Homo sapiens: one gene and its partners. The protein of the gene in region 4 purifies or fractionates together with the protein of the main gene of each other region. This does not show direct contact. Each region holds a gene or a part of one and is shown on either strand. Other genes may lie near its edges. The genes, in order: CCNT1, NUDCD3, CCNE2, CDK10, TTC14, CABLES1 and TFDP2.

Region 1 (3,500 bases), on a different chromosome or scaffold from region 4:
GAAATACAGCTCTTAGCATTACTATCTTTGAGTCACTGAAATGTTCTTAATATTCAAGAAAAGTTCTATTTCCTGAAGTTTCCAAGATCACCAGGCTACATTTATGTCATATTGCTTTAATCTTTTATAAAGTTTGTTATCTACTTTTATATTGACTTCAATTTTTCCCTCTTAATGCTTTCTATAAATAATGTCTTGCATATAATGCCATGCTTTGTATTTTTGAAAGGTTCGATATGTATAAGTAATTGAGATATAATTCACGTACAATGAAATTCGTTTGTTTAAATTATATAGTTCACTGGTTTTTAGTATATGCGCAAAATTGTGCAACCATCAGCACAGTCTAATTGCAGAACATTTACATCACCCCAGAAAACTCCTCACCTATTAGCAGTTATTCCTATACTCCTCTCCCCGCAGCTCCTGGCAACCACTAAACTTTTTCTCTATATGGATTTGCGTATTCTGGACATTTCAGTTTACTCCTTAAAAAATGTATTGAGTGATTTGATACAAACTTAATAAAGAATCTCACTTTAAATAGAAAACTGTCTGCTTACATCTAGTAGCTTCTCCCATAGACAGCTTTTAATGACAGTTTGTCAAAGAATTGGTATTTGGAAGTGGAGATGGATTAATGGGTAGGAGAGGGGAAGATGGTAGAAGCGGGGGGGCGGGAAAGGGTAAAGAGGTGACAAAGTTGAGGCAAGCAAATAACTTGATTTGAGACTTAGCTCCTCTTTAGATCTACCTTACTCTATGAATGAATAAATTGATAATAAATATGATTTATTTTCTCTCCATTCAGTCTGTGGCTCCAGCAGCCTTGTTTCTAGCAGCTAAAGTGGAGGAGCAGCCCAAAAAATTGGAACATGTCATCAAGGTAGCACATACTTGTCTCCATCCTCAGGAATCCCTTCCTGATACTAGAAGTGAGGTAGGAGATTAATTACACATCTGTTTTTCTTAATTTTTTTCCTTTCTTTTTTTTTCCCTACTCCCAAGCATGCCTGGATCTTTATGTATTTCAATGCAACTTAATTTTATAACTTCGATTTATTGAAGTTTAGATTGGTGTTGTTAAAAGAATATTTTAGTGTTTGTGTTTTTCTTAACAGTAAGAAAATCAGGCCAGGTATGGTGGCTCACCATACCTGTAATCCTAGCACTTTGGGAGGGTAAGGTGGGAGAATCACTTTAGGCCAGAAGTTTAAGACCAACCTGGACAACATAGCAAGACCCTGTCTCTATATTTAAAAAAAAGAAAAAAAAAAGCCAGATGTGGTGGCTCATGCCTGTAATCCCAGCACTTTGGGAGGCTGAGGCAGGAGAATTGCTTGAGTCCAGTTCGAGACAAGCTCTGGCAACAAAGTGAGACCCCATTTCTACAAAAAAAGAAAAACAACAACAACAACAACAACAAAAAACAACTGGGCATGCTGGCTCACATCTTTAGTCCCAGCTACTTGGGAGACTGAGGTGGGAGGGTTGCTTGAGCATGGGATGTTGAGGCTGCAGTGAGCCATGATCACACCACTGCAGGCAACAGTGCCAGGACTCTGTCTGAAAAACAAAACACATAAATTTTATGGCGAAAGTTTTGTATTTGTTGCAGTAAAATTTGAAAATACAGAAAAATTCAAGAATAAAATATCTCTCAGATATATTCTAGACCAATGGTCCCAGACCTTTTTTGGCACCTGGGACTGGTTTCATGGGAGACAGTTTTTACATGGACAGGGGGTGGGGTTGGAGATGGTTTTGGGATGATTCAAGCACATTACATTTATTGTTCACTTTATTTCTATTATTGTTACATTGTTATACATAATGAAATAATTACGTAACTCACCATAACGTAGAATCAGTGGGAGCCCTGAGCATCTCTTTTTTTTTGAGACGGAATCTTGCTCTTGTCGCCAGGCTGGAGTGCAGTGGCGCAATCTCGGCTCACTGCAACCTCCACCTGCCGGTTTCAAGCGATTCTCCTGCCTCAGCCTCCTAAGTAGCTGGGACTACAGGTGTGCACCACCACACACAGCTAATTTTTGTATTTTTAGCAGAGACAGGGTTTCACCATGTTAGCCAGAATGGTCTCGATCTCTTGACCTTGTGATCTGCCCGCCTTGGCCTCCCACAGTGGTGGGATTACAGGCATGAGCCACTGTGCCCGGCCACCTTGAGGTGCTTTTCCTGCAACTAGATGGTCCCATCTGGGGGTGATGGGAGACAGTGACAGATCATCAGGCATTAGATTCTCATAAAGAGCAGCAAATTAGATCCCTTGCATGGGCAGTTCACCACAGGGTTCAAGTGCTCCTATAAGAATCTAATGCCACTGCTGATCAGACAAGAGGCAGTGCTCAGGTGGCAATATGTATGGTGGGGAGAGGCTATAAATACAGATGAAGCTTCACTCACTCGTACCTGCTGCTCAACTCCTGCTGTGTGGCCTAGTTCATAACAGGCCATGGACCCCCTGTTATATAGACAACTGAAGCACAGGTATACTAATGAACCACTGTTATTTGTGGCTTCTTTTCTATAGATAGCTATGTGTGCATGTATTTTGTCTCTGGTTTGTTTTCATTTGCTTACTATATCCCAAATATTTTCCCATCTGATGGATTCTCTACTTTTTAAAAATGTCTGGCTAGTATTTAATGATATATATGTGAATGTATGTATTTTTAACAATTCTCCATGAAGAAGTCTAGATAATTTCTAGCTTTTAAAATCACTATAAATGTTATGAAAAATATTCTTTTTTTTTTTTTTGGAGACAGGGTCTCATTCTGTTGCCCTGGCTGGAGTCCAGTAGTGTGATCATGGCTCACCGCGGCCTTGACCTTCCGGGCTCAGTGATCCCCCTGACCTCAGCATCCCGAGTAGCTGGGACTATAGGTGTGCGCCACCATGCCCAGCTAGTTTTTGTAGAGATGGGGTTTCACCATGTTGCCCAGGCTGCTCTCGACCTCCTGAGCTCAAGTAATTCGCCCACCTTGGCCTCCCAAGTGCTGGGATTACAGGCGTGAGCCACTGCACCTGGCTGAAAAATATTATTATACATTTTTATTATGGATCCTTAAATGAGTAGTTTCACTATTTTTTTTTTTTTTAACTTTTTTTTCGAGTTGGAGTTTTGCTCTTGTTGCCCAGGATTGAGTGCAATGGTGCAATCTCAGCCAACCGCAACCTCCCCCTCCTGGGTTCAAGCGATTTGCCTGCCTCAGCCTCCCGAGTAGCTGGGATTACAGGCATGTGCCACTACACCCGGCTAATTTTGTATTTTTAGTTGAAACGGGGTTTCTCCATGTTGGTCAGGCTGGTCTCGAACTCCTGACCTGAGGTTATCCACCTGCCTCAGCCTCCCAAAGTGCTGGGATTATAGGCGTGAGCCACCATGTCCAGCCAGCTTTGTTTTTTTTGAGACAGAATCTCGTTTTGTTGCCCAGGATAGAGTGCAGTGGCAAGATTGTAGCCAGGATGGTCTCGAT
Region 2 (3,500 bases), on a different chromosome or scaffold from region 4:
TTTTATCCACAAAAGCTCATTTGACAGGAGGTTTGTAAAGGTGATTTCAGTATTGACAAGGGTTTTATTGTGGGGTGGGACAACACTGAATGAGACTGAGTGACTTGGTACCAGCATAACATTATTTCTTCGTGGTAGTAGGTGATCTCCTGACCTCCCCACTCCTACTCATCTGCCTCTTAGGGTTTTTTTTTTTTTCTGTCCCTAACTTGATGGCATAAGACTCCTTCCTGGGGTCTGCCTCTCCACCCCCACCAGATGTGGGATGCTTGGTGTCTCTGCTGAATATAGGCAGAGAAGAATTTGGATGGGAGTGCTGGGCTGCATCATTGTGGAACTTCAAAGCGTTCCCTTAATATTTTGGGGAGTACAGTGTTGGTGTAGAGTTAGGCAGCTCATACGTTTCCTTTTAAAAGTTTGCATAGCCTGGATACACAGCTTGAAGAACCTCAGCAGGAATGATGTATGTGAAAATTGCATTCCATTTTATAATACATTAGTATGTTTTAAGACAAAAATCGTTTAGACTGACAAGCCATTCATTATAATCGATAATGCTGTTTTTTTTGGAGTCCACTTTGAGAAGTGCTCCTTTGTAGAAGTCCTTGAAACTAGAATCAGGAAAGCTAGCTACATCCTGTTCCTTACATAAATTGTTGAGAAATCTTGGGAGAGTCACTTCACCTCTTGTCAGCTGAGAAGATTGATTGGAGGTTACAGATTAGAGTTCTCTTCCAGCCCTATGTTCTGTGACTCTAGAATGAGTACTGAGAACATGTGATAGTTGGGAGGTTGGCAGTGGTAGCACTTCCTGGTGGTGTGAATGGGTAGGTCAGAGAAGGCTGGATGTACTGAGTGAGCAGAGGCAGCTGCATGGTGAGGACTATCAAGTCTGGGGGTTCTGTGTTCGAAGTCTCAGGTGTTAGGAGAGAGAGATCTTGTTGCTTTGCTTTTGTGGAGTTAAGATGAAGATCTGGAGTATCAGCAGGATGAGCAACTCTGAAAGCATGGACTCAAAGCGGTAGAGACCCTAATGTTAGAATGAAGTCAGGGCTTCAGGTTATCTGCAGAAGTAAAAATGGTTCTGGTGTTGTTTCCAGTTTTTAACCTTTTAGGATTTTATTGATTTTTTTTTTTCCCCTCTGCCTACATCATCATCTCCCCACACTGTTTGGTGTGTGCTGCGTAGTTTTTTACTTCTTTTGCCAGCAGGAGCTGGGGCAAGTTACGTAACCTTTCCAAGCCTTATTTTTTTCTCATTTTTGAAATGTTGATGCTGTCTTCTTCACAGTATTTTTGTGAGGGTTTTGAGAGAATGTTTGTAAAATAATTTGACACAGTTAGTCTGTTAGCACCCTTTTGACTGCCCGCGCAGTGCACAGAACATTGTTATTTAATACCTGTCCGCATTCTAGCCCTTTGGAATCTGACTCCCACCCATGTCCCAGGTTGCTGTCTCAGCCTTTCCTTCCTCCAGTTATTGCAAGAGCTTTTGCCCTTCCTTGACAAGCCTATTCTTAGAGCTGTGGCATTTCCTCCAGTGGTTCCCTGTGGAAGATGTGCCTCTCATTCAGGGTCTAACTGGGATCCTCCTTGTTCCAAGAAGTCTCCCTAGATTTCTTTCGCCAGACATGCTCATTCCCACCCATACCCTGACAGGGAATTGAGGGCCTTGTCATGCCCCCTCTTGTATCAGAGTTTTCATGTGTGGGTATGTCTTGACTGTACTTTTTTGGTAGAGAGGTCCCAGCACCTTCATGGGTGTGACTGTTTCCCAGAAAATGTTAAGAACTTGTTTACACACCAGAATTTTGAGTTCTTAGGAGGCAGCAGAAATCATTTTGATGTTTTTTGTGCGTGCGTGTTTCTTGCACACTGTAGGCGCATAGTAGATGTTTGTTGAATTGAATGTCCATGCAGTGTGGTGAAAAACAGCAGCAGTCCTGTAAACCTGGTTCCATTTTGGGAATTGAAGTTCAGCCATATTTTCATGTTTCATTTGTGAGTCTGAATTTTGGTGCCTTTATAACCCACAGTTGTACCAGGACCGTGTATTCTTTGCATTGTGAACAAGACTGGGGTCTGTAAAATAATGACAACAAAGACCATCTAACTGTACATCTTTTAGGTATGTAAATATTGTTAGCCTTGGCTTATAAGTTTCTGATTTTGTTGATTTTGGAATCCTCCTGTTAAACACTGTTTACCTGTCAGCTTTTGGTGAAGTGGCAGTGCATTTCCATTTTGCCAGTGGGAAAACTTGTCAGTTTCTGACTTTTAGTTCTCTCCTTCACAGATTTTACGACATTTCTACAAGATATGTGGTACAGTATTGGGCAGATGAACTGATTGCTGGATTGGTGTTTGATTTTAGGTATTCAAAACCTTTGACCACATGGCCCGTCAGGATGATGAGAAGAGAAGGCAGGAACTTGAAGAGAAAATCAGAAGAAAGGAAGAGGAAGAGGCCAAGACTGTGTCAGCTGCTGCAGCTGAGAAGGAGCCAGTCCCAGTTCCAGTCCAGGAAATAGAGATTGACTCCACCACAGAATTGGATGGGCATCAGGAAGTAGAGAAAGTGCAGCCTCCAGGCCCTGTGAAGGAAATGGCCCATGGTTCACAGGAGGCAGAAGCTCCAGGAGCAGTTGCTGGTGCTGCTGAAGTCCCTAGGGAACCACCAATTCTTCCCAGGTGGGAATTTCTACTTTGCAGCTTCCTTCTTTCTTGCGTAACATCTGGTGTTTGGGTTTCTCCATAATTTATTCTTACTTTGTAACACATTAATTCTTGATCTCAGTATTTATTTAGCTCTTCATGTTTGTAAACTGCTGCATTACAGTCTTTCAGTTATGTAGGATGGGAGGTCAGTTGGCTTAAGGTCAGTTCCCTCATTTGGTAAGGTCAGTAGTCATACAACCATTTGAGATCCAGAGCCAAAATTAGAGCACTTGACTCCTCTCACAAAGACCTAACTTTATCTGTGTTTAGAGGCTTAGCCTCAGCAGCTCGATTGTTTGTGTTTTTCTCTCTGCAGGAGCACTGCTAGGATTTGCTCATGATGCCTGAGGTATAATGGACACCTGAAATGACAGTCTGTTTTAGGTGACTGGATTCACATCCTCGCTATGCCGCTTCCTGAATGTATTACCTTGAACAAGCAGTATAACCTTTCTGTGTCTCAGTTTTCTTCTCTATAAAATGTAGGTGATAATAATAGTACCTGTCTCATAGAGCTGTTGTGAATTTTAAATGAGCCGATAGTCAAGCAGCTAATGAGCAGTAGAGCTTGAATATGACATGAGGTTTCCCTGAATCAAGCCTCTTGCTTTATGTACTTGTACTCACTTTTTAGGAGTTATGTTTTGTGGGTGCTCTAAACTTAGTTATACAGTCCTTCCTTACAGTCTGAGTGAGAGGAGCTGATCCCTTCTTGTGTGGGAGTTGTAGTAGTGTCTGCAAGACAGCCACGAGCCTCCTGGCCTGCTTTGTTTTTTTGGAAA
Region 3 (3,500 bases), on a different chromosome or scaffold from region 4:
CTGTGATCACATGCCTTATGTGTTTAACTTTTTTGTATTGCTCTTGAGAAAACATTTTTTTTCACTTTTAATTGCATTTATTTTAGTGCTGAATTTACTCCTGTGCCATAAGTTTTTGTTTCTTCAGTTTCTTCTGGGATATCTTTTTCTTCTGGGCAACCGCCTCTTCTGGTTTAGGAACAATTTGTTCCTTTTCACTAAAGATCATTTCGATGTGGCAGGGAGAGATCACGTGTGAGTTAATCCGACCATGAGCTCTGTAGGTCCGTTGGCACATCGTAGGTGCTTTGTTCACTTGGAGATGCTCAATGACCAGAGAATCTACATCTAAACTCTTAAGTTCAGCATTACTCTCTGCATTTTTAAGCATGTGCAGCAAAAATTCAGCACTCTTTTTGGGCCACCAACCTTGTGTCCAGTCCCACTGCTTGGCCTGGGTACACCTACCAACTCCACCATTGTAATGTCAGAATGGCACATGCTGTTTCTGTAAAGTGACATTTTAAAAATACTTCATGGTGTTTTTTTTTTTTTTTTTTTTTGGAGACAGAGGTTTGCTGTTGTTGCCCAGGCTGGAGTGCAGTGGCACGATCTCGGCTCACTGCAACCTCCACCTCCTGGGTGCAAGTGATTCTCCTGCCTCAGCCTCCTGAGTAGCTGGGATTACAAGCATGCCACCACGCCCAGCTAATTTTTTGTATTTTTAGTGGAGACGGGGTTTCACCATGTTGGCCAGGCTGGTCTCGAACTCCTGACCTTAAGTGATCCACCCACCTTGGCCTCCCAAAGTGCAGGGATTACAGGTGTGAGCCACTGTGCCGGCCACTTTGTGGTTTTTCATATATGCATACCCTTGATAGCCTGGGCAGTTTCACGAGTGTTCTTACAGTGAACACAAAGATTTGAACCTCTTGATTTGCATGATTTTGTGGGGTTTTCCAGGTAAAGTGAATAGCCAGCTATTTTCACAGATTACTTCAGACCACTTATGGGAAAAGCAACGTGGTTATCTTTTAACAGCAACCTTTGTAAAGTATAAATAAGTGGAACTAGAAAGCACTCCCTTGAAATCTGCAGGTTTGGATGATCATAGTCCAGGTTCCCACTGTGTTACTTCAGGCTTCTATTTATTCATGCAAAGGAAATTGTTTCCAAAAATTAAGGCAGAAGTTTTTTTTCTTATTTACTTTAAGAGCTTCTTCCAAGTTCTAATTAAAAGTTGCATTTCAATGTCTGAAAGTTGAATTTTATCTATGTGAAACAGAGTTTGTATATTACATGGATTGCACAATTTAAATTATGTTTTTTAGCCGGGCATGGTGGGTCACGCCTGTAATCCCAGCACTTTGAGAGGCTGAGGCAGGTCGATCACTTGAGGCCAGGAGTTCGAGACTAGCCCAGCCAACATGGTGAAACCCCATCTCTACTAAAAATACAAAAACTAGCCAGGCTTGGTGGCAGGCACCTGTAACTCCCAGCTACTTGGGAGGCTGAGGCACAAGAATCGCTTGAACCCAGGAGGTGGAGATTACAGTGAGCCAAGATTGTGCCGCTGCACTCTAGCCTGGGCCACAGAGCGAGACTCTGTCTCAAAAAAAAAAAAAAAAAAATATATATATATATATATGGTTTTTTTCCTCTCTTTCCATAGCTGGGGATGTTCAAAAGAAGTCTGGCTAAACATGTTAAAAAAGGAGAGCAGATATGTTCATGACAAACATTTTGAAGTTCTGCATTCTGACTTGGAACCACAGATGAGGTCCATACTTCTAGACTGGCTTTTAGAGGTATGTTACAGCAATACAAATTTCCTTTGTCTCTGTATGATGGAAACATATTTAGCTGTAAATGTGCTTTCTATGTACTCTCAAGAGTTTATTGTTCATCCCCAGGAAGCTGTCTTTTTTGAGGTACTTACTGTAGTTGATTGCACCCAAAGTGGAAAGTGACTCTATAAGAGTAAAACCATGACAAAGCTACTACATATAACTAAACCCAATTCAGAATTCCTGTTACCTGTGGATACTGCTGTGTACCAACCACTTTCTGGGTGCCACAGATACTCAAGGTGAATGGAATGTATAGTTGATTAGGTTTTGAATTATGCTATACAAAGTGAAGAACTAGAACTAGGCTTCAGGGCCCTCTGAAGTCTTTTTCTGTATTAACAAAATCATGATGATGAGGAATCCTGATTTCTATATCCTAAACCATAATGAGACTATGGATATCTGGAAGCTCTACGCCCTCTATTGTCCAGATACCTTCTCTTTATTATATTCTTCTATTCTTTTCCGAAATATACCATTAATTTAAAGGAATAGTGATCCTGAAGCCCCTATAGATTTGTGCCAGATTTTTCTCTCTTGTTTAGGTCCATTCCCTTTCCTCTGGATAATAGCTCTAAAAAAGTTTCTAAAATTATTATTAAGGAAATCATTACTTATGTTGATGACAAACTGATTTTTCCTCCAACTCTTGGATATTTGCTCTGTAGTCTGTCTTTAAGACAAGAGATGAAGCATTCTAAGGGAAAAAGACCATAGACTTTTTGGAGGAGGAACACATGGCAGAATAGATCTCAGAAGCTATCAGAACAGTTTTTAAGACTAAAATGTTATCCTTTTGCATCAGGTCATCTTTTTCCTTATTCTGACTAGAAGGAAAGATTGTATTTTAATTGTGGGCACAAGAAGGCATTGGGTTTTGACTTTTTCTGACTGTCTAGTGATCATGGAATCAACTTAAGCACAATTATGTTAATTTTTAATTTGTTTCCTTTTTGTTATACTGATATTCATCCAGTGGTTATCCAATTCAATTTGTTCCTGTTTTTACCTAAATATGATTATGTATGCAACAGCATACAGAATATATCAAATCCAGCAGTGTTAAACTCTATCTTAGTGTATTCTTCAGTCTAGGAATGCAAACTTGATTCAACATTTGAAAATCTATTAATTTATTACCTTAACAGTAAATAAGAAAAATGCTAAGATCTCAATAGATGCAAAAGACATTTTTTGAAATTCGACATTCTTTTTTTTTTTTTTGAGACGGAGCCTCGCTGTTGTCACCCAGGCCAGAATGGAATGGCACGATCTCAGCTCACTGCAACCTCTGCATCTCGCGTTCAAGCGACTCTCTTGTCTCAGCCACCCACATAGCTGGGATTACAGGCGCAGGCCACCACACCTGCTATATTTTGTATTTTTAATAGAGATGCGGTTTCACCCTATTGGCCAAGCTGGTCTTGAACTCCTGACCTCAAGTGATCCGCCCGCCTTGGCCTCCCAAAGTGCTGGGATTACAGATGTGAGCCACCGCACTCGGCCAGCAAAAGAGATTTTCTTAACTCATTATTAGAAACTCATGTGGCCAGGTGTGATGGCTCATACCTGTAATGCCAGCACTTTGGGAGACTGAGGCAGGCAGATCAGTTGAAGCCAGGAGTTTGAGACCAGCCTGGCCAACATGGCAAAATCCCATCTCTACTAAAA
Region 4 (3,500 bases):
TTTTGTTTGTTTTTGAGATGGGTCTTGCTCTATTGCCCAGACTGGAGTGCAGTGGCATGATCATAGCTCACTGCGGCCTCGACCTCCTAGGCTCAAGTGATCCTCCCACCTCAGCCTCCTGAGTATCTGGGACCACAAGAGTACATAAGCACACCCAGCTAATTTTTAAATTTTTGGTAGAGATGGGATCTCCCTATGTTGCCCAGGCTGGTCTTGAACTTCTGGGCTCAAATGATCCTCCTGCCTCGGCCTCCCAAAGCACTGGGATTACAGGTGTGAGCCACTGCACCCGGCCAAGCCTAGGAGTTTGAGGCTGCAGTGAGCTGTGATCACGCCACTGCACCCCAGCCTTGGCAACAGAGTGAGACCCTGTCTCAAAAAAACCAAAAACACCACACACAACTAAAGGTTATAACAGATGTGAAATTGGCGTAGGTCATTCTGGAAGCTGCACACATTAGCAGGATGTTTTGTAGAGCCATCTTCACACAAAATAAGGTTTGCTTTTTTCTGCATAGAGTACCTTATTTGCTTTTAGGACATTACAAGAGAGCACAAAGCAGTGATCTGCATGCTAAGGAGGACATGGAGAGCCTGGAGCCACAGAACTGAGTGGCTGGAGGCCAGGGTCCAGCACAGAGCAAAGTTGGGCACCCCCTGCCCAGTTCAAATGAGGAAACCCTCCGGGGGAACGCGTCTCGGGCTAGGGGCGTTGCACAGAGTGGGGACTGAGTGTCACTGGGCATGAGGTTGTCAGAGGAAAGAACGGGGACCCCTGTGGCTCAGGGAGAGCCTCCCGTTCAGCGCTAGGGAGCCCACGAGGGGCATCGAGATGATGTCATCACCAATGTGTTTCCATTCCAGATCGGGCCCGGGACACCCAGACAGATGAGATTGTCGCACTGAAGAAGGTGCGGATGGACAAGGAGAAGGATGGTGAGCAGGAAATTGGGGTGTTGGGACCTCGCACTGGGAGGAGGCAGAAGGATGTGAGTTACCTGAAGTTTCCTCAGAGCGACTGCACGGTGCTTGTAGCGGGGGCCGGCCTCTGGGAGGGTTCTGGTGTGGCCCAGCACATCACCCCCAGGTCCACACGCAGCCTCAGCTGTCTGCCAGGAGGGCTCTGCAGTCTCCATCCCCTCCTCCCCCTCCTGTCTGGTGAGGCCACCTCACTGCAGGCTCAGCTCTGCTGTCCCCTCCACCCCCAGCACCTGCCTGTGCAGGCAGGGCCCTGCCATGCCCCACATAGATGTCCACGGTGTTTAGAGAGGTGCCGATTCGTATTTGGTCAAGGAAGAGTTAAAAGTGCTTATTGGGCCGGGCATGGTGGCTCATGCCTGTAATCCCAGCACTTTGGGAGGCCGAGGCAGGCGGATCACCTGAGGTCGGCAGTTCAAGACCAGCCTGACCAACATGGAGAAACCCCATCTCTACTAAAAATACAAAATTAGCCAGGCGTGGTGGCACATGCCTGTAATCCCAGCTACTAGGGAGGCTGAGGCAGGAGAATTGCTTGAACCCGGGAGGCAGAGGTTGCGGTGAGCCGAGATGGTGCCATTGCACTCCAGCCTGGGCAACGAGCGAAACTCCGTCTCAAAAAAAAAAAAATGCTTATTGGGGTCGCCCCAATTCTCCCTGAGGTGGGGACACTGCAGCACCTGCTATCAGGTGTTCGTGAAGCCCAAGAGTGGCTGGGGTTGGGGCTTCCCCGCCATCACTGGGGTGGGGCTCGCTGAGGCCACCTCCCTCCCCAGGCATCCCCATCAGCAGCTTGCGGGAGATCACGCTGCTGCTCCGCCTGCGTCATCCGAACATCGTGGAGCTGAAGGAGGTGGTTGTGGGGAACCACCTGGAGAGGTACGTGGTCTCCTGGTCTGCACATTGGGCCCTAGGGAGCATGTGTCTTGGGCTAGAGGTGTTGCACAGAGCGAGGACTGAGTGTCACTGGGCATGAGGTTGTCAGAGAAGAGATGACCCCACCTCACCGCCTGGCTCAGCCCATTGTCTGAGGGGGACACAGGTTGTCCTGCCCATGTCCCCTCCTGCAGCAGGGGAGGCTCCACTTCCACCCCTTAGGAGAAGGCCGGAGAGTGGCATGCATCTTCTGTTTCTTCCAGCATCTTCCTGGTGATGGGTTACTGTGAGCAGGACCTGGCCAGCCTCCTGGAGAATATGCCAACACCCTTCTCGGAGGCTCAGGTGCGTGGCAGAGGGGCCTGGGGTGGGGGAATGGGCTTCATGGGCCCTTGTGGTGCACATTTATAACGAAACAGGGCACTTGGGGACTTGAAGAGCTGCTGCTGCCTCTGCCTCCACCTCCCAGTGTTTCAGCGAGCTTCAGTGAGGTGGAATTCCTGTGGTGGGGGCATCTGCTGGGAGCGGGCAGCCCCAGGGCCGAGAGCCTTATGAGGGCACTGGTTTCCTGGGCTGTTGGGAGCAGGCAGCCCCGGGGCTGAGAGCCTTCTGAGGGCACTGGTTTCCTGGGCTGCTGGGAGCGGGGAGCCCTGGGCGGAGAGCCTTCTGAGGGCACTGGTTTTCTGGGCTGCTGGGAGAGTGCAGCCCCGGGGCCAAGAGCCTTGTGAGGGCACTGGTTTCCTGGGCTGCTGGGAGCGTGCAGCCCCGGGGCCGAGAGCCTTCTGAGGGCACTGGTTTCCTGGGCTATTGGGACTGCTAGTCCTGCTGGCCAGTGTGGGTGTGGCAGGGCCCAGCTGGGCTTCCCTGCAGGCTCACCCTGACTGGTACCTCTGACCCTCTGCACAGGTCAAGTGCATCGTGCTGCAGGTGCTCCGGGGCCTCCAGTATCTGCACAGGAACTTCATTATCCACAGGTGGGTGACAGCTAGGCAGAGTTGGAAGCACAAATTCGGCTGAGGCCTAACTCTGCTGCCCCTGTGGAGTTACTAAAAGCTCAGGGGTTCCCAGCTGCAGCAGCCTGCCCGCTGCTCGCACTCCATTTGTGTTTTTTTCTAAAATAGAGAAGGGGTCTCTCTGTGTTGCCCAGGCTGGTCTCACACACTTGGGCTCAAGTGATCCACCCACCTTGGCCTCCCAAAGTGCTGGGATTACAGGTGGGAGCCACCACACCCAGGCATGCACTCCGATTTTTAAAAGGTCCAAACATCAACAGCATGTAAGAGTTAATGAAAAAAAAAATAATAAAGATACTACGCCGGGCACAGTGGCTCACGCCTGTGATCCCAGCACTTTGGGAGGCCGAGGCAGGCGGATCACGAGGTCAGGAGATCGAGACCATCCTTGTTAACACAGTGAAACCCCATCTCTACTAAAAATACAAAAAAATTAGCCGGGCGTGGTGGCGGGCGCCTGTAGTCCCAGCTACTTGGGAGGCCGAGGCAGGAGAATGGCGTGAACCCGGGAGGCGGAGCTTGCAGTGAGCCGGGATTGCTCCACTGCACTCCAGCCTGGGCGACAGAGTGAGACTCTGTCTCAAAAAAAAAAAAAAAAGATACTAAAAAGCCCAAAGCTGAGGAAACGTGCAG
Region 5 (3,234 bases), on a different chromosome or scaffold from region 4:
GGACTGTCTTATCAGTGATTAATATGTGTACCATGTAACCAAGTAGAGAAGGATGCAGAAACTTTTTATAAGAATTTTGTGTGTATGCTAAAGAAAAATACTGGGTTTTTTTGTTTTTTGTTTTTGTTTTTTGAGTCGGAGTCTCACTGTGTCACCCAGGCTGGAGTGCAGTGGCGCTATCTCAGCTCACTGCAAGCTCTGCCCCTGGGTTCACGCCATTCTCCTGCCTCAGCCTCCCAAGTAGCTGGGACTACAGGTGCCCGCCACCACGCCTGGCTAATTTTTTTTTCTTTGATTTTTAGTAGAGTTGGGGTTTCACCGTGTTAGCCAGGATGGTCTCAATCTCCTGACCTCGTGATCCACCCGCCTCGACCTCCCAAAGTGTTGGGATTACAGGCGTGAGCCACCGCACCTGGCCAAGAAAAATACTGTTTAACAATAATAATCATTTCGAAAGTTCAAAGATTTTGGTATGTAAATAGAATGCAGATTTCTTGCTTGGGATTCATACTTTCACTGTCGAGTGCCTGTCAAGCAGAGTTAAGTATAGTTACTTAAAAAATATTTGTGGTTTAACTTTTTAATTTTTATTTTCTTTAATAGCAAAAATTTCTCTGAAGATGATTTTGCTTCTGCATTGAGAAAAAAACAATCCGCATCTTGGGCTTTAAAATGGTATGAAGACTGTCTTTCAACAATTGCATTATATCTAGTCTAAAAGCTTAGGGCAAGGCAAGCATGCTTATATCATCAATAAGACAAATTTGAGATGCATTAAAGTGATGCCTTTTTGACATGAGCTTTTCTTTTATAGATGTAAGTAGTCTTACATTTTACACTTAACAGATAAGTTTTACTCAGCATTTCAGTTTTCTCAAAAGGAATTAGTATATTGATATCTAGGTTTCACCAATATTTGTTGTGAAAATGTCCAAAGGCAGAAGAACGTTCCTTAGGTATATTGTGAGTACTCTGAAAACTAAATATTTTGCCAAGTTTGATGACATTTGCTTTTAAAACTTATTCACACTAACATTTTATTTAGATATTGTTTGAAGTGTTTGTGATGCTTTACAAATGTCTTTTTTAGTGTGAAGATCGGAGTTGACTATTTTAAAGTTGGACGCCATGTGGATGCTATGAATGAATACAATAAAGCTTTGGAAATAGACAAACAAAACGTGGAAGCTTTGGTAGCTCGTGGAGCATTGTAAGTGAATCATACATGGATTTTAAGGAATGTTTACCAGGTAAATGCGAACAAGATTTATGAAGAGCTTGTGAGATACAGCCCTCTATCTTTGTTTCATGTCTCTAGATATGCGACAAAAGGAAGTTTGAACAAAGCAATAGAAGATTTTGAGCTTGCATTAGAAAACTGTCCAACTCACAGAAATGCAAGAAAATACCTCTGCCAGACACTTGTAGAGAGAGGAGGACAGTAAGTATCAGATTTTGTTTAATAGTGGAGGTCTAATGTTCAACCAACCACTAAAAAATTTTGAACTTAAGGAAATAGTTTCTTAAGCACTTAATTTATAACACTCTTGGTTTCAATAAATAAATGGGAAAGTACAAGAGATTAGGCAAATACTCTTTTCCTAGATAATATACTCAAAAGTTTTTGGTTTAATGACTATACTATTTGTGTAGTCATTCCTGTTTGTGATCACAAATTCCAAGTTGATTAAATTTTGCAATATTCGTTTATAATTTATAGGAACTTCTATTTAATGATTGGAGCAGCTTTTTACATACTTACTAGGTGGATAACTAGTAACTACTTATATGTGGTTGTCTTATAGCCTTGTATTGATGTCTTTGAGCTGAGTGAATAGCAATACCCTGTAGTTACCTAAGCCAGAGATACTGTTCATCTTTGACTTGTCCTTTGTTTCCCATATCCAGTCTACTGACACAAAAGTGATCCCATTGTATTTGTTTTATAGTAATTTCTTTTTCCTTCTAAGAACCCAAAGCACTTTGCAACATCTTTTGACTGCTTTATGTCCAAACTTTCTCATTCTGGTGTTTCACAACCCAGACTTGTGAAATTCATCTAATGATTATGCTATTTACAGGCTCATTGTGATATATGTGTATGTTGGTATTTCCAAAGATTTCCAAAATTTTCTGTAGATAATTTTTCATAAACTACTAGGGAAAAAAGCCTGCTGGTATAATTCTGTGCTAAAATTCAAGATCATACTAAATTTGTGGACACCCATTTATCATGGGTTTTTGTGTATTACTGCAAAAATGTGCCAATATTGGACATATACCTTTAGTTACTAGTAAGATTTCTGTTTATGTGGTCTATGAAATAAATTACAGTAAAAAGCATATTATTTTGGTATTTTATTTTGGAAAATAATTTACTTGGCTTTTCCCTAATAAGCTCTCTCATATAAGCCTTTGACCTGTATGCATATTTGGATAGTTTTGTTGTTTTTACAAAAAAGCTAAATCTTTCTTTCAAATTTAGGTTAGAAGAAGAAGAAAAGTTTTTAAATGCTGAAAGTTACTATAAGAAAGCTTTGGCTTTGGATGAGACTTTTAAAGATGCAGAGGATGCTTTGCAGAAACTTCATAAATATATGCAGGTGATTCCTTATTTCCTCTTAGAAATTTAGTGATATTTGAAATAATGCCCAAACTTAATTTTCTCCTGAGGAAAACTATTCTACATTACTTAAGTAAGGCATTATGAAAAGTTTCTTTTTAGGTATAGTTTTTCCTAATTGGGTTTGACATTGCTTCATAGTGCCTCTGTTTTTGTCCATAATCGAAAGTAAAGATAGCTGTGAGAAAACTATTACCTAAATTTGGTATGTTGTTTTGAGAAATGTCCTTATAGGGAGCTCACCTGGTGGTTTTTAAATTATTGTTGCTACTATAATTGAGCTAATTATAAAAACCTTTTTGAGACATATTTTAAATTGTCTTTTCCTGTAATACTGATGATGATGTTTTCTCATGCATTTTCTTCTGAATTGGACCATTGCTGCTGTGTCTGTGACATCTGGTGCTGCTCATCCCCATCCACAAACTGGAAAATGATTTCCTATGTAATCATGCATCCAACTGGGCTGTGCTATTTTTTTAAATGGTTTGTATTTGAACATGGTGATTCCTCCTTCACTTCACCTTAACGGAATGTCTTTATTTGAATTTTATTTGTAAAATGTGTCCTGTTTAAATTTTTCAATCTTTAAAAATAATTTTTATGTACTT
Region 6 (3,500 bases), on a different chromosome or scaffold from region 4:
AGTGAAAACTTCAACTTCAGTTTGCTTTTAATTACTTTCAGCTGCAGTTCGACATTCTCTAGCTCTATTTCCTGGTGCTGGAGAGTTAGTGCTGGCATTTCAGCCAAACAGATATTTCTATTTTTAATATACCATTTTAATGAGAATTCAGAACAATGATCTTAGAAAATACCAAGATTTCATCACACTCCACTGGGACTTCTGCTTCATTCTTTCTCACTGGAGTTTTTAAAAGATTCTTTTGGAGCGAATCTCCACCATTCAGAGTTCCTTTCTGCATGCAACTCCAACGTTCTAGGCTTCCAAAAGAGAGGGACAGCAAAGACCATGGGTCTTGCCTGCTTTTCACTCACACATAAAGACTGAGCAGTTGCCTGAGCTGTTAAGCTATGTGGCACAATGTGAAACTGCTGTTTATGGGGGTCAAGTACGACCAAAGAACAGCAATTTCATGTTTCATGTTAATATCAGAAAGATTCCAGCAACATTGATCAGAGCCCTTACCTAAGAAGAATGAACCCGGAAAAGTTTGTCAGCCTCTTTGTGAAAGATGTATTTTTTAGATCCCAAGAGTCTTAACATATACAAATTAAAAAGCTATGAGAAGGGCCAGGCGCGGTGGCTCACACCTGTAATCCCAGCACTTTGGGAGGCCAGGCGGGCGGATCACAAGGTCAGGAGATCGAGACCATCCTGGCTAATATGGTGAAACCCTGTCTCTACTAAAAATACAAAAAATTAGCCGGGCATGGCGGCAGGCGCCTGTAGTCCCAGCTACTCGGGAGGCTGAGGCAGGAGAATGGCATGAACCCAGGAGGCGGAGCTTGCAGTGAGCTGAGATCGCACCACTGCACTCCAGCCTGGGTGACAGAGCAAGACTCCATCTCAAAACAAAAACAAAAAAAACCTATAAGAAACTGACATTGTTAGAAATGAGATCTGTTTTGTTTTCTGTGGACGGCTGACTATGCCCACGCCTGTACGTGTATGCTCTTAATTCCAGGCCAGCAAAATGGTAGCCCTGAAGTTAGTGATAACCTCTCCCTGAATCTGAGGGAGGAAAAGCGTGGAAAAGTTGCCCTCTGCCATCACGAAGCTGTCAGTGTTCTAGAGCTGAGATGATATTTATTACTGTATCAGCGAAGTTTTGAAGTGTGACTAGCTTTGGCGTACAAGAAATACCTCATTTCTTCTTTTTAAATCTACTTAATATGAACTGTAAACCCCCCTTCTACAAGGCTGAGGGGAAATTGAGACTCACTTTTCACTGGGCATTCCTCCCTCCCCATCTCCAGTATTGTGCAAAGAAGGGCCTGGAACCTACTGTAATGCCTAGGATTTGGGGAACACATGCTGGTTGTTGTTCCTTTGGTTGCCCTAGCACTGCCAAAACTGTCACACCCGCCCCGTGACCCCTCCAGGCAAAAAGATCTGCTGCTCTGTGCCAGATGTGAATTACGAATCTTTATCATGGCTGGGAGCCCTGTTCTTGGGGTGCTGATGGTGCAAGGCATGGGTCCCATTTGATCATGGACCCCATGGTCATTTCCCTTCCGACTTAGGAGAATCTTGCACTGCTGCTCCCTCTGCAGTGGCCTGTAATTTAAACATCCCCAGAGGCAATAGGCAGAAAATAGGCCACTCTTGGGAAGAAAACTGGGAGACCAAATCCATGTCACTGAGTATCTATGACTATATTATCTTGCCATAGGAACTTATAAAATAAGGGTAGCAAAAGTCCTGCCAAGGAAGCACTGGGTCTTAGTAGTCACTAGCCACATGTGGCAATTTACATTTAAATTAATTAAAATTAAATAAAAATTCAGTTTCTCAGTCAACTGTTCACATTTCAAGCACTTAGTTGCCACACGTAACCATCGTATGGAACACGGTAGATAAGGACCATCTCCGTCATCACAGGAAGTTCTGTTGCGTGGCACTGGTCTGTAACAAGCCTCACGTGTCTCCAGTAGCAGTTGAGGGTGGCCCCACTATTCTTGCTTATTTTCTTACTCGGCTTAGCCTTAGCAATTTAGAAAGTAGAATGACGTAAGTAGAAAGCCAGGGGGAAGTGGTGACTGCAGTGAGTCACGTTATTTCTCGAGGGACCAGTTCTGTGGGTAGGGTTGGTGGAGCCTTGCCCGTCTTTCTTGTGGTCCCAAGTGTCGCTGAGACGCTTGGACAATCCACTGGAATCCCTGTTTCTAAGAATCCCTGTTTCTTTAAATGGGTTTGGGTTTTATCTCATGGAATAGAATCTTGGACTTTATACGAGCACATGACTATATTTTTTTTTTGTTAGGGCTTCATTTCCTTTGGAGGAAATGCCAAGAAGGGGAGTGTGGAAGAGGCGCGACTGGTTTGGTTCTGTTAACTGTGATGTGTGATGTGCACATTTGGCGGCAGGCAGACAGCTGGCCAGGACAAGGCTGCCCCGGGGAAGCAGTGAGCCTGTGAGCAAATTGAAGACAGATGAAAAGGGGCACAGTGGAAAATCACCCAAGTTTCATGCCATCTGCATGTACCAGTACCGGCGAGACAGCAAAGAGCCACACTAGCTCAGCTCAGTAAATAGTTCGTTACATATCAGACGTTGTATAGACAGGATATGAAAATGGACTGAGACTGCCCCTGCCTGCAGCCAGCTCTCCATCTGAGAACCCTCTCAGTATGGGCTTATTGGAATTCTCCTTATTTCCCTTGGCCTACTCACTCCAAAAAGATATTCCCTACTTCTCTCTTAATTTCAGCCCTAAGTAACATTCTCCATCTGGCAAAATGGAAACAAGGAGAAAATTATTTGGGAGTTGGGAATTTGAAGACCATGCTTGCTGGCTTTGGCTTTGGAAAAGTAGGAAGCCCATGGAACTGAGCTGCTGGTCCTTGAATGAAAAGGAAGACACTGCTGTTTTTGTCCTGCTCTGCATGTGGTCAGTCCCCTCCCTCCCTGCCCACCGCAGGTATTTTTGCTTCATTGCCTTGTTCACGTTTTTGCTTTGTAGGCACTTCCCTATGCCAGTGCCCCTGTGCATTCATCATCTCCATCCTTAATTGCTTTAAGAAGCCTTTTGAGAATCGCCCTGGGGTGCCTGCATAGCAGCTGCAGCAGTAGGGCAGACGGTCTTGTGGGTGTGAACAGAGTTGGTTGTTGGCTTTCTTCTGCATGACTTTGGTGTCGATTCTGAACGGGACTCCAGAGATGTTTTGAGGGTGGCACTACCATGGCCTCCCAGGAAGCCTGCTGTGGAAATGCAGCACTTACTGGGCACAGAAGGTCTTGGGCATTTCTGTTAATTAGACTCCACATTATGGGTAGGATAAGGGAGCCGGCTCATTCATGTAATGCCCAGAGACTAGGATGATGGCTCAACAGAATCAGAGCATCCCTGTTTTTTTTTCTATATTGGAGGATAGCTTTTTTCCCTTCTCTTCTCACCACTCGCTTGGCTCCCTCCTCTCTTCTTACCTGATGACTTTGTCTTTGGCTGGGAGCAATTTGC
Region 7 (3,500 bases), on a different chromosome or scaffold from region 4:
AGACTGGTCTTGAACTCCTGACCTCAAGTGATCTGCTCGCCTTGGCCTCCCAAAGTGCTGGGATTACAGGCGTGAGCCACCTTGCCCAGGCTGATTTGATTTTTGTGTATGGCAAGTGATATGGGTCTGGTTTTTTTCTTCTGCATTTGCATATCCAGTTTTCCCAGCACCATCTATTGAAGAGACTGTCTTTTCCCCAGTGTGTGTTCTTGGCATCTTTGTGGAAAATGAGTTAACTGTAGGTGTGTGGATTTGTTTCTGGATTCTCTGTTCTGTCCATTGGTCTGTGTGTCTGTTTTTATTCCAGTCCCATGCTGTTTTGGTTACTATAGCTCTGTAGTATAATTGAAGTCAGGTAATGTGATTCCTCCAGTTTTGTTCTTTTTGCTCAAGATAGCTTTGGCTATTCTGGGTCTTTTGTGGTTCCATATAAATCTTAGGATGGTTTTTTCTATTTCTGTGAAGCATGTCATTGCCATTTTGATAGGGATTGCCTTGAATCTGTAGATTGCTTTGATAGCAGTATTGACATTTTAACAATATTGATTCTTTCAATCCATGAACATGGAATATTTTTCCATTTTTTTGGTGTCCTCTTCAATTTCTTTGATCAGTGTTTTATAGTTTTCATTACAGAGATCTTTCACTTCTTTGGTTATTACCTAGTTATTCAATTTTATGTGTGGCTGTTGTAAATGGAGTTACTTTTAAAATTTCTTTTTCACATTGTTCACTGTTGGCATATGGAAATGCTACTGATTTTTGTATGTTGATTTTGTATCATGTAACTTTACTGAATTTGTTTATCACTTCTATTAATAATACTTTTCTTGTGGAGTCTTTAGGTTTTTCCAAATATAAAATTGCATCATCTGCAAACAGGGATAATTTGACTTCTTCCTTTCCAATTTGGGTGCCCTTTATATCTTTCTGTTGTCTGATTGCTCTAGATAGGACTTCCAGTACTTTGTTGAATAACAGTAGTGACAGTGGGCATGCTTGTCATGTTTCAGATCTTTGAGGAAAGGCTTTCTAGTTTTTCCCCATTCAGTATGATACTAGCTGTGGGTCTGTCATATATGGCTTTTATTATGTTGGGGTGTGTTCCTTCTATCCCCAGTTTTTTGAGTATCTTAACTTCTTTGCAACATAAATATTTTATTTAAGACCTATATGTCCTTTTGCAACATATTTCATGCTCTTTTGACTTTTTTTTTTTCTTGAGACAGAGTCTTGCTCTGTCACCCAGGCTGGAGTGCAGTGGCATGATATCGGCTCACTGCAACCTCCGACTCCCGGGTTCAAGTGATTCTTGTGCCTCAGCCTCCCAAGTAGCTGGGATAACAGGTATGTGCCACCATGCCTGGCTAATATTTGTATTTTTAATAGAGACAGGGTTTTGCCATGTTAGCCAGGCTAGTCTTGAACTCCTGGCCTCAACTGATCTGCTGCCTCAGCCTCCCAAAGTGCTGGATTACAAACTTAACCCACCACACCTGGCCTATGTTCTTTTGACTTTAAAAGAAATTAAATAGATCTTCGTTCAAGATGGCCGAATAGGAACAGCTCCAGTCTGCAGCTCCCAGCGTGATTGATGCAGAAGATGGGTGATTTCTGCATTTCCAACTGAGGTACCTGGTTCATCTCATTGGGACTGGTTGGACCGTGGGTGCAGCCCACAGAGGGTGAGCCGAAGCAGGGAAGGGCGTCACTTCACCCAGGAAGCACAAGGGATCAGAAGATTTCCCTTTCCTAGTCAAGGGAAGCCGTGACAGACTGTACCTGGAAAAATGGGACGCTCTCGTCCAAATACTGGACTTTCCCCATGGTCTTAGCAACTGGCAGACCAGGAGATTCTCTCCCGTGCCTGGCTTGGCGGGCCCCACATCCGTGGAGCCTTGCTCACTGCTAGCGAAGTAGTCTGAGATGGACCTGTGAGGCTGCAGCCGGGTTGGGGGAGGGGTGTCCGCCATTGCTGAGGCTTGAGTAGGTAAACAAAGCGGCCAGGAAGCTCAAACTGGGCGGAGCCTACCTCAGCTCAGCAAGGCCTACTGCCTCTATAGACTCCACCTCTGTGGGCAGGGCATAGCAGAACAAAAGGCAGCAGAAACTTCTGCAGACTTAAACATCTCTGACAGCAGTGGTTCTCCCAGCATGGTGTTTGAGCTCTGAGAATGGACAGTCAGCCTCCTCAAGGGGTCCCTGACACCCGTGTAGCCTAACTGGGAGACACCTCCCAGTAGGGGGCGACAGACACCTCATACAGGTGGGTGCCCCCCTGGGACGAAGCTTCCAGAGGAAGGATCAGGCAGCAATAATTGCTGTTCTGAAATATTTGCTGTTCTGCAGCCTCTGCTGCTGATACCCAGGCAAACGGGGTCTGGAGTGGACCTCCAGCAAACTCCAACAGACCTGCAGCTGAAGGACCTGACTGTTAGAAGGAAAACTAACAAACAGAAAGGAATAGCATCAACATCAACAAAAAGGACATCCACACCAAAACCCCATCTGTAGGTCACCAACATCAAAGACCAAAGGTAGATAAAACCACAAAGATGGGGAGAAACCAGAGCAGAAAAGCTGAGAATTCTAAAAACCAGAGTGCCTCTTCTCCTCCAAAGGATTGCAGCTCCTCGTCAGCAACGGCATAAAGCTGGACGGAGAATGACTTTGATGAGTTGACAGAAGCAGGCTTCAGAAGGTTGGTAATAACAAACTTCTCTGAGCTAAAGAAGCATGTTCTAACCCATCGCAAGGAAGCTAAAAACCTTGAAAAAAGGTTATGGCTAACTAGAATAAACAGTGTAGAGGAGACCTTAAATGACCTGATGGAGCTGAAAACCATGGCATGAGAACTTCGTGAGGCATGCACAAGCTTCAAAGGCCGATTTGATCAAGTGGAAGAAAGGATATCAGTGATTAAAGATCAAATTAATGAAATAAAGCGAGAAGACAAGTTTAGCGAAAAAAGAGTAAAAAGAAATGAACAAAGCCTCCAGGAAATATGGGACTATGTGAAAAGACCAAATCTGTGTTTGATTGGTGTACCTGAAAGTGACGGGGACAATGGAACCAAGTTGGAAAACACTCTTCAGGGTATTATCCAGGAGAACTTCCCCAACCTAGCAAGGTAGGCCAACATTGAAATTCAGGAAATACAGAGAACACCACAAAGATACTCCTGAGAAGAGCAACCCCAAGATACATAACTGTCAGATTCACCAACGTTGAAATGAAAGAAAAAGTGTTAAGGACAGCCAGAGAGAAACATCAGGTTACCCAAAAAGGGAAGCCCATCAGACTAACAGCGGATCTCTCGGCAGAAACCCTACAAGCCAGAAGAGAGTGGGGGCCATTATTCAACATTCTTAAAGAAAATAATTTTCAACCCAGAATCTCATATCCAGCCAAACTAAGCTTCATAAGTGAAGGAGAAATAAAATCCTTTATAGACAGACAAATGCTGAGAGATTTTTTCACCACCAGGCCTGCCTTACAAG

Evidence for each region.
Region 1: the proteins of CDK10 (region 4) and CCNT1 purify together in Homo sapiens (affinity purification with mass spectrometry, with the first as the bait; one large-scale study listed by BioGRID). This does not show direct contact.
Region 2: the proteins of CDK10 (region 4) and NUDCD3 purify together in Homo sapiens (affinity purification with a luminescence readout; one large-scale study listed by IntAct). This does not show direct contact.
Region 3: the proteins of CDK10 (region 4) and CCNE2 purify together in Homo sapiens (affinity purification with mass spectrometry, with the first as the bait; one large-scale study listed by BioGRID). This does not show direct contact.
Region 5: the proteins of CDK10 (region 4) and TTC14 purify together in Homo sapiens (affinity purification with mass spectrometry; 2 studies listed by BioGRID and IntAct, with this or other methods). This does not show direct contact.
Region 6: the proteins of CDK10 (region 4) and CABLES1 purify together in Homo sapiens (affinity purification with mass spectrometry, with the first as the bait; one large-scale study listed by BioGRID). This does not show direct contact.
Region 7: the proteins of CDK10 (region 4) and TFDP2 purify together in Homo sapiens (affinity purification with mass spectrometry, with the first as the bait; one large-scale study listed by BioGRID). This does not show direct contact.

The regions. Positions count from the first base shown.
Region 1 is NC_000012.12:48,703,208-48,706,707, reverse strand, and holds part of CCNT1 (cyclin-T1), read left to right. Parts: intron 1-811; coding exon 812-940; intron 941-3,500. UniProt on the Homo sapiens protein: Regulatory subunit of the cyclin-dependent kinase pair (CDK9/cyclin-T1) complex, also called positive transcription elongation factor B (P-TEFb), which facilitates the transition from abortive to productive elongation by phosphorylating the CTD (C-terminal domain) of the large subunit of RNA polymerase II (RNA Pol II).
Region 2 is NC_000007.14:44,484,159-44,487,658, reverse strand, and holds part of NUDCD3 (nudC domain-containing protein 3), read left to right. Parts: intron 1-2,374; coding exon 2,375-2,691; intron 2,692-3,500.
Region 3 is NC_000008.11:94,888,702-94,892,201, reverse strand, and holds part of CCNE2 (G1/S-specific cyclin-E2), read left to right. Parts: intron 1-1,651; coding exon 1,652-1,787; intron 1,788-3,500. UniProt on the Homo sapiens protein: Essential for the control of the cell cycle at the late G1 and early S phase.
Region 4 is NC_000016.10:89,689,689-89,693,188, forward strand, and holds part of CDK10 (cyclin-dependent kinase 10), read left to right. Parts: intron 1-864; coding exon 865-936; intron 937-1,754; coding exon 1,755-1,857; intron 1,858-2,117; coding exon 2,118-2,199; intron 2,200-2,760; coding exon 2,761-2,828; intron 2,829-3,500. UniProt on the Homo sapiens protein: Cyclin-dependent kinase that phosphorylates the transcription factor ETS2 (in vitro) and positively controls its proteasomal degradation (in cells).
Region 5 is NC_000003.12:180,605,163-180,608,396, forward strand, and holds part of TTC14 (tetratricopeptide repeat protein 14), read left to right. Parts: intron 1-603; coding exon 604-675; intron 676-1,090; coding exon 1,091-1,210; intron 1,211-1,318; coding exon 1,319-1,441; intron 1,442-2,485; coding exon 2,486-2,603; coding exon of another isoform or gene 2,604-2,633; exon of another isoform or gene 2,634-3,234.
Region 6 is NC_000018.10:23,229,485-23,232,984, forward strand, and holds part of CABLES1 (CDK5 and ABL1 enzyme substrate 1), read left to right. Parts: intron 1-3,500. UniProt on the Homo sapiens protein: Cyclin-dependent kinase binding protein.
Region 7 is NC_000003.12:142,139,545-142,143,044, reverse strand, and holds part of TFDP2 (transcription factor Dp-2), read left to right. Parts: intron 1-3,500. UniProt on the Homo sapiens protein: Can stimulate E2F-dependent transcription.